3 linked regions of the Homo sapiens genome follow. The protein of the gene in region 1 interacts with the protein of each later gene in a pairwise test. Each region holds a gene or a part of one and is shown on either strand. Other genes may lie near its edges.

Region 1 (3,652 bases):
GCTTACGAGAAAGTTCATCATGGTAGTTCTGCTTGTCAATGAGACTGTTGCGTAAATTGAGATCCAAGATCCCTCTGTTCCAGGTAAAGGAAGAAGAAGAAAATGATTTTGTTATCAGCTGTCCTAAATGTTTTTCAAAACTTATCAAGACAGCATGCTGAATATTGGCTCCCAATCTCTTCTGGCAAAGACCTAAAAACAGAACTACCGTTTGACCCAGCAATCCTATTACTGGGTATATACTCAAAGGAATATAAACTGTTATATCCTAAAGACACATGCACACATTTGCTCATCACAGTGCTATTCACAATAGCAAAGACATAGAACCAACCTAAATGCCCATCAATGGTAGACCAGATAAAGAAAATGTGGTACATATGCCACAGACTATTATGCAGCCATAAAAAAGAATGAGGGCTGGGCGCGGTGGCTCACGCCTGTAATCCCAGCACTTTGGGAGGCCGAGGTGGGTGGATCATGAGGTCAGGAGATCGAGACCATCCTGGCTAACACGGTGAAACCCCGTCTCTACTAAAAATACAAAAAATTAGCCGGGCGCGGTGGCGGGCGCCTGTAGTCCCAGCTACTCGGGAGGCTGAGGCAGGAGAATGGCGTGAACCCGGGAAGCGGAGCTTGCAGTGAGCCGAGATTGCGCCACTGCAGTCCGCAGTCCGGCCTGGGCGACAGAGCGAGACTCCGTCTCAAAAAATAAAAAATAAAAAATAAAATAAAAAGAATGAGATCATATCCTTTGCAGGAACGTGGGTGGAGCTGGAGGTCATTATCCTTAGCAAACCAATGCAGGGACAGAAAACCAAATATCACATGTTCTCACTTATAAGTGGGAGCAAAATGATGAGGATACATGGACACATAGAGAAGAACAACACACACTGGAGCCTTTTGGAGGGTAGAGGATGGGAGGAGGGAGAGAATCAGGAAAAATAATAGGTACTAGGCTTAATACTTGGATAACAAAATAATCTGTACAACAACCCCCCATGACACAAGTTTACCTATAACAAACCTGTATGTGTAACCTTGAACTTAAAAGTTTAATAAAAGACAGCATGCTCAGTATATACACACATGACTATTCTCATGTTGGAATCATAAATTGTAAATAATGCCAAAGGCAACTAGGTTTGTGAGTTGGTATCATTTAGAACTGCAGTCTTATAACCCCCACCCCCCAAAAAAATAACAGACTGGCAGAGATAGAAGCCTCCAGTTTCCTTGAAATTTTACTTAAAAGCAGGACATAGGCTGGGCGCGGTGGCTCATGCCTGTAATCCCAGCACTTTGGGAGGCCAAAGCGGGTGGATCACGAGGTCAAGAGATCGAGACCACCTGGCCAACATGGTGATACCCTGTCTCTAATGAGAAGAAAAAAAAAAATTAGCCGGGCGTGGTGGTGCGCACATGTAGTCCCAACTACTCGGGAGGCTGAGGCAGGAGAATCACTTGAACCCGGGAGGCAGAGGTTGCAGTGAGCCAAGATCGTGCCACTGCACTCCAGCCTGGCGACAGAGCAAGACTCCATCTCAAAAAACAAACAAAAAAGCAGGACATAAAACTCTCCTAGGGAATTACACCACGAAATTGCTTCTGTTAGAAAAAAGTCAAGATGGCCTAAGAAGTATCATTCATTTGTTGGCAAAATCCCTGAACATAACATACTCCAGTGATAAATTTTCCAAAGGCACATTCAGAAACTTACAACATACAACAGATTATATCCTGAAAATCTGGTAACAGAAAATTGAGAAAATTTGAGTAAAGTATCAAAAAATACTTCAAAGTGCTTTATTTGATAATATATTAAGGGTAAAAGTTGATTTAAAATTATTTTTAAATATTTATTAACTCAACACCAAAGTGAGATTTTGAATTCTCAAATATAAATTGAAGAAAAATTTAGATGACAGAACATAACATACATAAATATAACTAACCTTTCAGTTAATGAAGTTGCTTCATTCTCTCTGGCTAATTCCAATAGCTTGACCAATTGGTTATGTTCTCGTTCTTTGATTTCAAGTAAGGCTCGTTTGCCTTCAACTTCCTTTATTACATTTTCCTTCTCATCCACTATAGCACTAACCTTGTTTTCAACTTTCTTTAGGGAGTCATTTAGCGTTTTGACTTCTTGTTCCAAGACAATTTTTTTCTTTTCCATTTCTCTGTAGGGGATACACACACACACACACACACACACACACACACACACACACACACACACACACACACACTTGCCTTATTTTGAGGCCATGCTGGCTTTACCTATTCTTGCTTTCTAACCATGCAGCAGAAGAGATAGTCATAAATTCAATGATCTCAGCAGTGGGTAAAGACCACAGATGGGTGGGACTTGGAGGGTATCTCCACTGAGTGCCACGGAAGGCAGGAATTTGCCCAGCCTCCCTACTTTCTGTGCAGATCCCAATTTGCTACCATCTCCTGTGATTCAACCCTCGTCCTGACCAGCCTCCTGAAACTGACCTGAGTTTCTCAACTTTGATGTTGGTGAGCTTAGTTTTTAGAACAGTTACTAGTGCCTGCCTAATTTTTCCCCTTAAGATTAGTCACCAGAGTAATTATATTATTTTTCCAGAATTTTTGTATCTTCACTTAAAATCTTTATCTTTTTTGGTTCCTTAAACACTGAGAATTTCCTCAATGACCTCTGCCTCCCAATCTACTCTGAATATCTGAGGAGTGTTATACACATGAATGGGTGGCAAAGTGGGGAGTTACTATTATTTGGGCTTTGGGCTGCTGCCTGGCTGATATACTTCTAGACTATGAAATTCTAACCAGTTCGCATAATTTATCCCATGCACCGCTCTGTTAAAGTCAATTGAACTTCTCCATAAAAATATGATTTATAAATTGGCAACAGAATCTTGACCCATAATTAAGCCATAAATACTATGAATGATAGAAATTTGGTGCATTACTTTCTTTTAAAGAACTTGATATAAACAACCTAGACAGGGCCCAAAGCAGAAATTTCTAAAATTATCATAGTAATTTAATGTGTCCAATGGTTAGTACTCTTGTTCTAGTGTGCACACATAACTTGGACTGGCAGGGATTCAAAGTAAAAATATTAAATCATACACTTTTTTGCGTGTTATTTTTTCTATCTCTTTTCCAATTTGTACTGGAATGGTTTGATGGTGGGCCACTTCATCCTAGTAAAGAAACGAAATCATGTTAAATTATGCGGTCTTCGGCTAGAAGCAATTAAGACAAGAAAATTAAATATGAGAGAGAAAGGAACTACAATATGTAGATACTTACCATCTGCCCTGTGTGCTTTAATTATCCCATTTAATACTCACGGTGACCTTGTAAGAGAGCTATATTTGTTATCATTTTGAAGAGGAGGTAACTGAGTGTAGCAAATACTGTTGGTCCTCTGCCCAGATTCCCTTTATGGAGGTACAGATGCTCCTCCACATACAATGGAGTGACGTCCCAATAAACCCGTTGTAAGTTGAAACTACCTTAAGTTGAAAATGCATTTAATACACCTAACCTACTGAAATCATAGCTTAGCCTAGCCTACATTCTCAGGACACTTTTATTAGTCTACAGTTCACCTAATACAAAGCTTATTATATAATAAAGTGTTGAGTGCCAC
Region 2 (3,652 bases), on another chromosome or scaffold:
CCAGTCTCCAAGAATGGCTGCCTGAGTTTCTCATTCTCACTAAATTAAGCTGACAAAACACAAACGAAAAAAAGGGGTAGGGGTAGAGGGGAGGGCATGGCACACTCTTGCTTTGCATTTTAATAACTCAGGCACAGTGCCTCAGACCATTTTTAATGAGAGATTGACTGATAGTGGTCTCCTCCCCACACCCTACTCGGAACAGATCAGGGTCTGGATCAACAGCATGCTTTCCTCCCCTCCAGAACATCTCACCTGGCCCCGCTCCTGGTTGGAGGGTGGCCCACAATGAAACTTAAGCCCTTGGCATGATTTGCTGGCCTCTCGAGGGTCCAGTCTGGAAGGGCATCCCTAGTCACCCAAGACACACTTCCCAGGGAAACCATGCCCTGGTGAGCTACACTCCTGCTTCTTGCCTTGTGAGGGAGTCAGTTATGAGGACATAGCCAGGCCCACCAAGGGCAACTTCATGGAGATAAGAGCTATCTTATTTGGTCAGCCAACCTTCCCTTGAGCTCAGAGGCCTTGCAGCCAGGGATTGCTGGTGACAGTATGAGAAGGGAACAGGGCTCAAGGCCACTGCCTGTCTCAAGAATGCAATGTCTTGTTCCTGCAGCCAGCCTCAGGCCAAATAGGGCCTCCCCACTCCATGGGGAGAATGTATGTCAACATATATTGACATAGATGAGGGCAACCTTGTGCCCCTGATCTCCAGCCTCAAAATACACCCTTCCTGCCTGAAATTCCCAAAAAATGAGTTCTCTATTAATTGCAGAATCTGTATGTGCTAAGGGCTGTTGTAAGTCTTTTTGTAGAAAATGACATCTCATTTAAAAGACATGGCTATTCTGAGAGGTAGGAGCTATTTACCCCATTTGATGGGTGAGGAAACTGAGGATCAGAGAAGTCAATGGATTTCCCCACGTCTCCACAGCTAGTAAGTGGCAGAGCCAAGATTCAAACTCTTGTTGGGCAGAGTTTCATCGACTGTTTCTGCCTGGCCAGCATGGGCAGCAGGGGATGCAAGGTCAGCGGAGACACTTAGAGGGTGGAGCTGGTCAGGTGGGCTTTGCAGTCACATCCCATCTGGAGCTCTGAGGAGCAGGAACCTGGCAGCTTCCAAGGTAGATGAAAAGCTGACCTGCCTCAAATTGTTTTATTTAAAGCCAGGCTTCTGACTGTTTGAAGCCGCTTGGTTTTGGCAGTGCTTTTCCCTTTTTCTCTTTTTTCTTCCTGTTTTTAAACAGCCCTCGCAGAAAAGGGGAGTGCATCATTGCTGGGCGCCTCACTTGCAGATGCTCAAAAGACCTCTGTCCCTCCCACCCCATGGCTGGCTCCAGAGCAAGGCAGCTGGGCTGCGTGTGAGCGAGTGGGCACACGTGCTCACAGACAGCTCTCATTTGCAGAAAGACAGGAAGCCCTGTATTGATCTGCACCTGAAGTGTAGATACAGATGAAGTATTTTGCTTTTATAGTGAGTTTCACCAGCATTAAACTTCATTTATATCTCTATAAATATATACGGCTTTGAATGGGAGGCTTTACAGCTTGCCTTATAAGTTCCATCTCTCTGTGGCACAGACTGGGTCACCGTGAGGAGACAGTCCCTTTATAGGTGGCTCTGGCCTCTGCCCTTTTCAACACAGCCATTTGCAGGGCTTTCATCTGGTGTTCAGGGCCCTGTCTGTCTGCCCAGCTGGACATCTCTCCTCCCAGCACCTGGATAGACATGGGCTCTCCAGCCCTGGCGCTGCCCTCTCCTCTGTCTGCCTGTGCCCTGTCACCCCTGGCTCACAGCTGGCCAGTTGGGAGGAGGGAAAGAGGGCACCGTGACTGTCAGCTGATCTGCTCTCCACACCTGTCCCTGGGCCCAGCCACCACAGCTGACCTTGGTATTGACAAATTCACAGGGGACATCATGAGGTACTTACACAGGACAAGCTGGCAAAATCTGGCTTATTAGGGTATATGTTTTACAGAAATCCATTTAGATAAACAGGCTATCCACACAAACGCCAGCACTCAGTGGCCACAAGCCTTACAATACTTCACGAAGCAGGCAGCAGCTTCTGTCCCGATGCACTTGTGGAGATAAATTCAAAGTAATCTATATAAACTCAAGCCTTTGAAATTGCACAATGTCAAAAAATTCAAACAATTACTCTAGCCCAGCCAGGAGGTGGTTGTTAGATGTTCTTCTTATGGAAAACAAAATTATAAAGGAAGGGAAAATGTTTCATAAATAAAATTCAGAATGGTAGAAGAACCTGGAGGGAGGGGAAGGTAGAAAAAAGGAAACCCAAGTGTTCATGGTCTCTGGCTGACTGCAGAATAGGGCTCGGAAACCCTCCTTAAGGCTCAAATTAATTTCAGTCTAGTACAATTTCAAGGTAATTAATTGGGAAGAGGCATCTTTCAGGTATTTAAAAATATCAGATTGGCTCTTGGTACTAAAAGAGTAGGAGAAAAAATAGCCAACACATGCTTCTAAAATCAAGGTGATGTAAAACAAGGGCCAACCCAACCCATTAGCACTTGAGGAGCATATAAAATTCGGGTCAACCCAATAATTGCTAGCTTGTTGAAACACCAAGTACCCCAAGCTGCACCCAGTCCCCAGGCCATATTAAATAGCAAGTGGCACAATCTGGGCTAGAGGACATGTTCCATGACAGACACTGTCCCAGGGACTTTGTACTCATGCCTCATTTAATTCTCACAAAAAAAACTTAAGGAAGATGTGGTGGGCCGGGCGTGGTGGCTCACGCCTGTAATCCCAGCACTTTGGGAGGCCAAGGCGGGTGGATCACGAGGTCAGGATATCGAGACCATCCTGGCTAACATGGTGAAACCTCATCTCTACTAAAAATACAAAAAATTAGTGGGGCGTGGTGGCCGGTGCCTGTAGTCCCAGCTACTTGGGAGGCTGAGGCAAGAGAATGGCGTGAACCCGGGAGGCAGAGTTTGCAGTGAGCCGAGATTGCGCCACTGCACTCCAGCCTGGACGACAGAACAAGACTCTATCTCAAAAAAAAAAAGATGTGATGATCTCTATAGGCTTTTCGGGGGTGAGGGAGGGTGAGGGAAAGAGGGGATGTGTAGGAATTTGAAGTCCAGTTTCCTGTTAATAACTCCCCAGGTCTTGCTTCTTGATGCCTTTGCCCCATGGGTTCTGTGTACATGTGGCCCAGAGCAGGGATGACTAAGATACAAGCAGCAGAGAGAGTGGAAGAACTTAGTCTCTGTCCAGGTGCTTCTGCTTATAATCCCAATACTTTGGGAGGCCAAGGTGGGAGGATCACTTAAAGCCAGGAATTCAAGACCAGCCTGGGCAATATATCAAGACCTCCATCTCTACAAAAAAAAAAGATCAAAAAATTAGCTGGGCATGTAGGTACATGCCTGTAGTCCCAGATCCTCAGGGGGCTGAGGTGGAGGGATGGCTTGAGTCCAGGAGGTAGAGTCTATGGTGAGCCATGATCACACCACTGCACTCCAGCCTGAGTAACAGAGTGAGATCCCATCTCAAAAACAAAGCAAAGCAAAAAGAAAAACAAAAATAACAACAACAACAACACAAAGTAGGCTCTGTTCCAAACAGATTTGGTTGAAAACCAGCCCTGCCACCTACTAGCTGTGTGGCCTTGGGCAA
Region 3 (3,652 bases), on another chromosome or scaffold:
GAGGCTCATAGGGAGCACTCCCCAAGGCAGCTTGTAAGTGCATCCTGAGCTGCAGTCCTCAAACTTAGCTGAAACAAACTCTCTATATTAAAAATAAAAATAAAAATCCTTTGAGCTGGAGCTGCAGGGTATAAAAAGAAAAAGAGAGAGGCTCATAATATCCAGTTGTCTTTTTTTGATGTTAGTAGCCATTAGTAACTATTACCTAGATCTATCAGTTCATTAAGAATTTATAAATTATGAGCTATTATTATTTCAAAGAAATTCATATGAAATCTTCCTGCCCTATTGTTCTGGTTAGAACTTCATAATGATCTTGAACAGCAGCATCAGCAAACATGCATTCTCTTCTCTCACCCCTGAGTTTCATTAAGGGGATGTTTGTGGTGGTGTTTTTTAACCCCTCAGGGAGAAGCTGACCCTTAGGGGTCCTGATTTATCTAGCACACACTATAAACCTCAAGGGCAAGAGACGGGGGCCCTGCTTCAGATGGAAACCTGTCTGTCATTCCATCCTTAGCCCCAGCCCACGGGTGTCTGCAGAGCCCACTGGGACTTCCTGCCTCCCTTCTCTCTCCCCTCTCACTCTCGCTGTGTCCTGTAATTTTGATTTTCCTTTCTACAGGGCAAGCCAAGTCTTTGAAGACTGAAGACTTGCTGGCAATGGTGATAAAGCTGCAGAAAGGTCATGTGTCTCTTTGTTTCTGAGCCTCAGCCTGGGGTTTCAAGTCAGAAAGACATGGTACAAATTCAGCCCCCTGAACTCACAACCTCAGGAAATTATCCCATTGCACTTTCTCCCTCTTATACAGTTTAATTCTTTGAACCAAGAATACAGTCCCACAGTTCAAAATTCAAGAAGTTTAAAGGAATGGAAAAACCAGTTCCCCCGCCATCCCTACTCCCTCCCCCCACACACCAGTCATCTATTTCCCTGACTCATGGGCAAGCAGCTATTGTTTTTCAATTCTTAAGTATCTTTCCAGAGATTTTTAAAAAATGCATTCATGGATGTATATTTTTTGTCCTCCCTTTTTACACACAAATGGAAATGCAGTTGGTTTTGCACCTTGCTTTGCTTTTTGCGGGAAACCTGGGAGCCAGTGTGCACCCAGTATCTACATCAGAGCTGAGGCAGTGCTGGCCAGAGGTGAGACCCCCAGCCCATTCTCATCTTAAAATACTATCACGTCAGTCTATTCCAAACAAAAGCAGCAGCCTCCCCGCTCCCATTCTGTGGCTGCCTGCAGAAGAAGTGCACTGGGACTGCTGCCTACGGTAAAATTAGGGAGAGAAATTGCAGGGCTAGAAATGCAGTGATCCAACCTGATCATTTCCAGTAAAACAAAGACCCCCAGAGATTTCTGTCAGTCATAATCAGCACCGTGGAGAGCACCCACTCTCCTGGAAATCACAGAAGCTGGAGTTGGTGACCTTGGAAAAATCCATGGTCTGAGTTTATTAACCCCAGAGTGTCTGAGGGGTCAGCAGTGAGATCTGGCAAGGGTTGGACAGCTTTTTGCCCCAGTTCCGTGTTGGCAACCTTGAAGCCAGAGAGGGATGAGAAGGAAGTCTTCTGCGTACAGAGCACTGAAACAGGGGCTATGAGAAGTTAGAGGTGATTCCCTAAAGGGATAGTGATCACCCTGTCACTGGGAAACTTGCAAGCTGCCACCAACAGTGTAAAAGCAGGGATTCCCCATTTCTCAGATGAGGCCAGTACCAGAGCCCAGACTGACAGAGTGACAACCCTTCCTGCCTGGATTTTGACAGGGCGGGGCAGATGGGACGTCTCCATTGGCTCACACCACACTCAGAGTTACATCTAAAGGCTTCCACGGTGGCCCAAGAGGCCCTAGTGATATCACTTCCCACTTCCCCCACCTTACTTTCTGCTACTCTCCACTTGCTCACTAGACCTGAGCCACACCAGCCCCTCACTGTTACTTTGGACACGTGCCTCACCCGCTCCTGCCACACTACAGGGAATTTGCACTTGTTCCCTCTGCCTTGTTGCACTCTGCCTGGAATGGGTCCCCCCTCCATACTCTTTACCCCCACAGAACTGCAGGACCTGCTTCCTTCTTCTCATCTGGGGCCTTTGCATATCCCCAGACATGCCTTTTACCCTTTTGCTCTTCAACACTTTGCCTCACTTTATTTCTCTTCACAGCAGTTACTGCCACCTGAATTGATTTATTTATCTTTGCTCAATGTCCATCTTGCCAACCCAGAATGCAAGCCCTTCAAGGGGCTCTGGCAGAGCTCAACACACAGCAGGCGCTCAATATATGCCGGTTAATTGATAGCAGCAGACACAGTGCTTCTCCGTCTGCCTTGGACAGCCAGACACCAGTCTTCTCTGGCTCACTCTTTCTTCCTTTCTTTCTTCAGAGGGAAGCCTGGAGCCACAGATAGAGGACCTGATTAGCCGGATTAATGATCTTCAGCAAGGTAAACTTGGGGACTTAGACTGGCCAGCTGGGGCGAGCAGGAAGTGACTGGATTTATAATGAATCCACCTCCTCATCTATAAAATCTAGGCCCCTCTAGGGTTGTTTGAAGATGACTGTGCAATGTCATATTTGCGAGAGAACAGCAAGGCTAGAGACTACACTCATACAGTGTCTTTTTCCCTTCTTGGCCCAGCAAAGAAGAAATCCAGTGAGGAACTGAGAGAGACCCACAGTCTCTGGGAGGCCCTGCATAGGGAATTAGACTCCTGTAAGTGGGGCCAAAAGAGGGACCCATCAACACTGCAGATGTTCCTGTGCATACCTCAGGGCCTTTGCACAGGCTGCTCCCTGGCCTACAATGCTCTTAGCTCACATAATCTGTATTGCCTTTCACTGTCTCATGTCATCTTTCAGCTCTCAGCTCAAATTTCACCCTGATAGGCCTATCTTGATGGTCTCATCTAAGAATAGAATCCCGCCCTCTCTTGGTCATTCTCACGCCCCTGGCTGATTTGTTTCTTAAGAGCCTTTATGTCCACCTGACACTGTGTGTGTATTTCTTTATAGCCATCTTTCTCCTCAGTGTAAACCTTGTACATTCTTCAGGGTCTTCACTCCTTCAACATTTACAAAGAATGTGGGCATAGAGGGGGAGAAGCTGGATCAGGATGGTCCTTCTGGGAGATGGTTGCAAGGGTGGCAAGAAGATACCTCACCTCTCCTAGGGCTGTACTACACCTTCTGTGTGGCTTTCCCCTTATATGAAGTTGCACTGGGGATGGCAATGGGGTGCCTGGAGGCAGAAAGTGTCATTGTGTTTTCCAGTGAATGGAGAGAAAGTGCACCTAGAGGAGGTCTTGGGCAAAAAGCAAGGTATTTACCAGTTGCTGTGTCTTCCTTATTCTACTCTTCCACCCCACAAAAGTCTATGCTCCTCAGAGCAGCCAGAGGAATCCCACTGAAACCTAAGGCAGGGTGCTTCCCTCTCTGCACAGATCTCTTCCTGGATTGCTACATCACTTGGAGTAAACACCCAAGTCCTCACAGTGCCCTCCAATGCCTGACATGATGTGGGGCCTATTACCTCTGGCCAACCCTGACTCCCCAAGAGCTCTCAAAGGGTCCCCTTGGTTCCTTCCCCACAGAGGCACTGAGGATCCTCCAGATGCACTGCCAAGAGAAGGAAAGCGAGGCTC

What was found.
Region 2: the proteins of CCDC146 (region 1) and TNR interact in a two-hybrid assay, tested with the Homo sapiens proteins (one large-scale study listed by BioGRID).
Region 3: the proteins of CCDC146 (region 1) and SYCE1L interact in a two-hybrid assay, tested with the Homo sapiens proteins (one large-scale study listed by BioGRID).

Annotation. Positions count from the first base shown.
Region 1 is NC_000007.14:77,258,543-77,262,194, reverse strand, and holds part of CCDC146 (coiled-coil domain-containing protein 146), read right to left. Parts: intron 3,201-3,652; coding exon 3,127-3,200; intron 2,187-3,126; coding exon 1,959-2,186; intron 75-1,958; coding exon 1-74. UniProt on the Homo sapiens protein: Essential for sperm flagellum biogenesis and male fertility.
Region 2 is NC_000001.11:175,733,494-175,737,145, forward strand, and holds part of TNR (tenascin-R isoform 1 precursor), read right to left. Parts: intron 1-3,652. UniProt on the Homo sapiens protein: Neural extracellular matrix (ECM) protein involved in interactions with different cells and matrix components.
Region 3 is NC_000016.10:77,205,816-77,209,467, forward strand, and holds part of SYCE1L (synaptonemal complex central element protein 1-like), read left to right. Parts: intron 1-625; coding exon 626-685; intron 686-2,394; coding exon 2,395-2,454; intron 2,455-2,649; coding exon 2,650-2,724; intron 2,725-3,281; coding exon 3,282-3,329; intron 3,330-3,601; coding exon 3,602-3,652. UniProt on the Homo sapiens protein: May be involved in meiosis.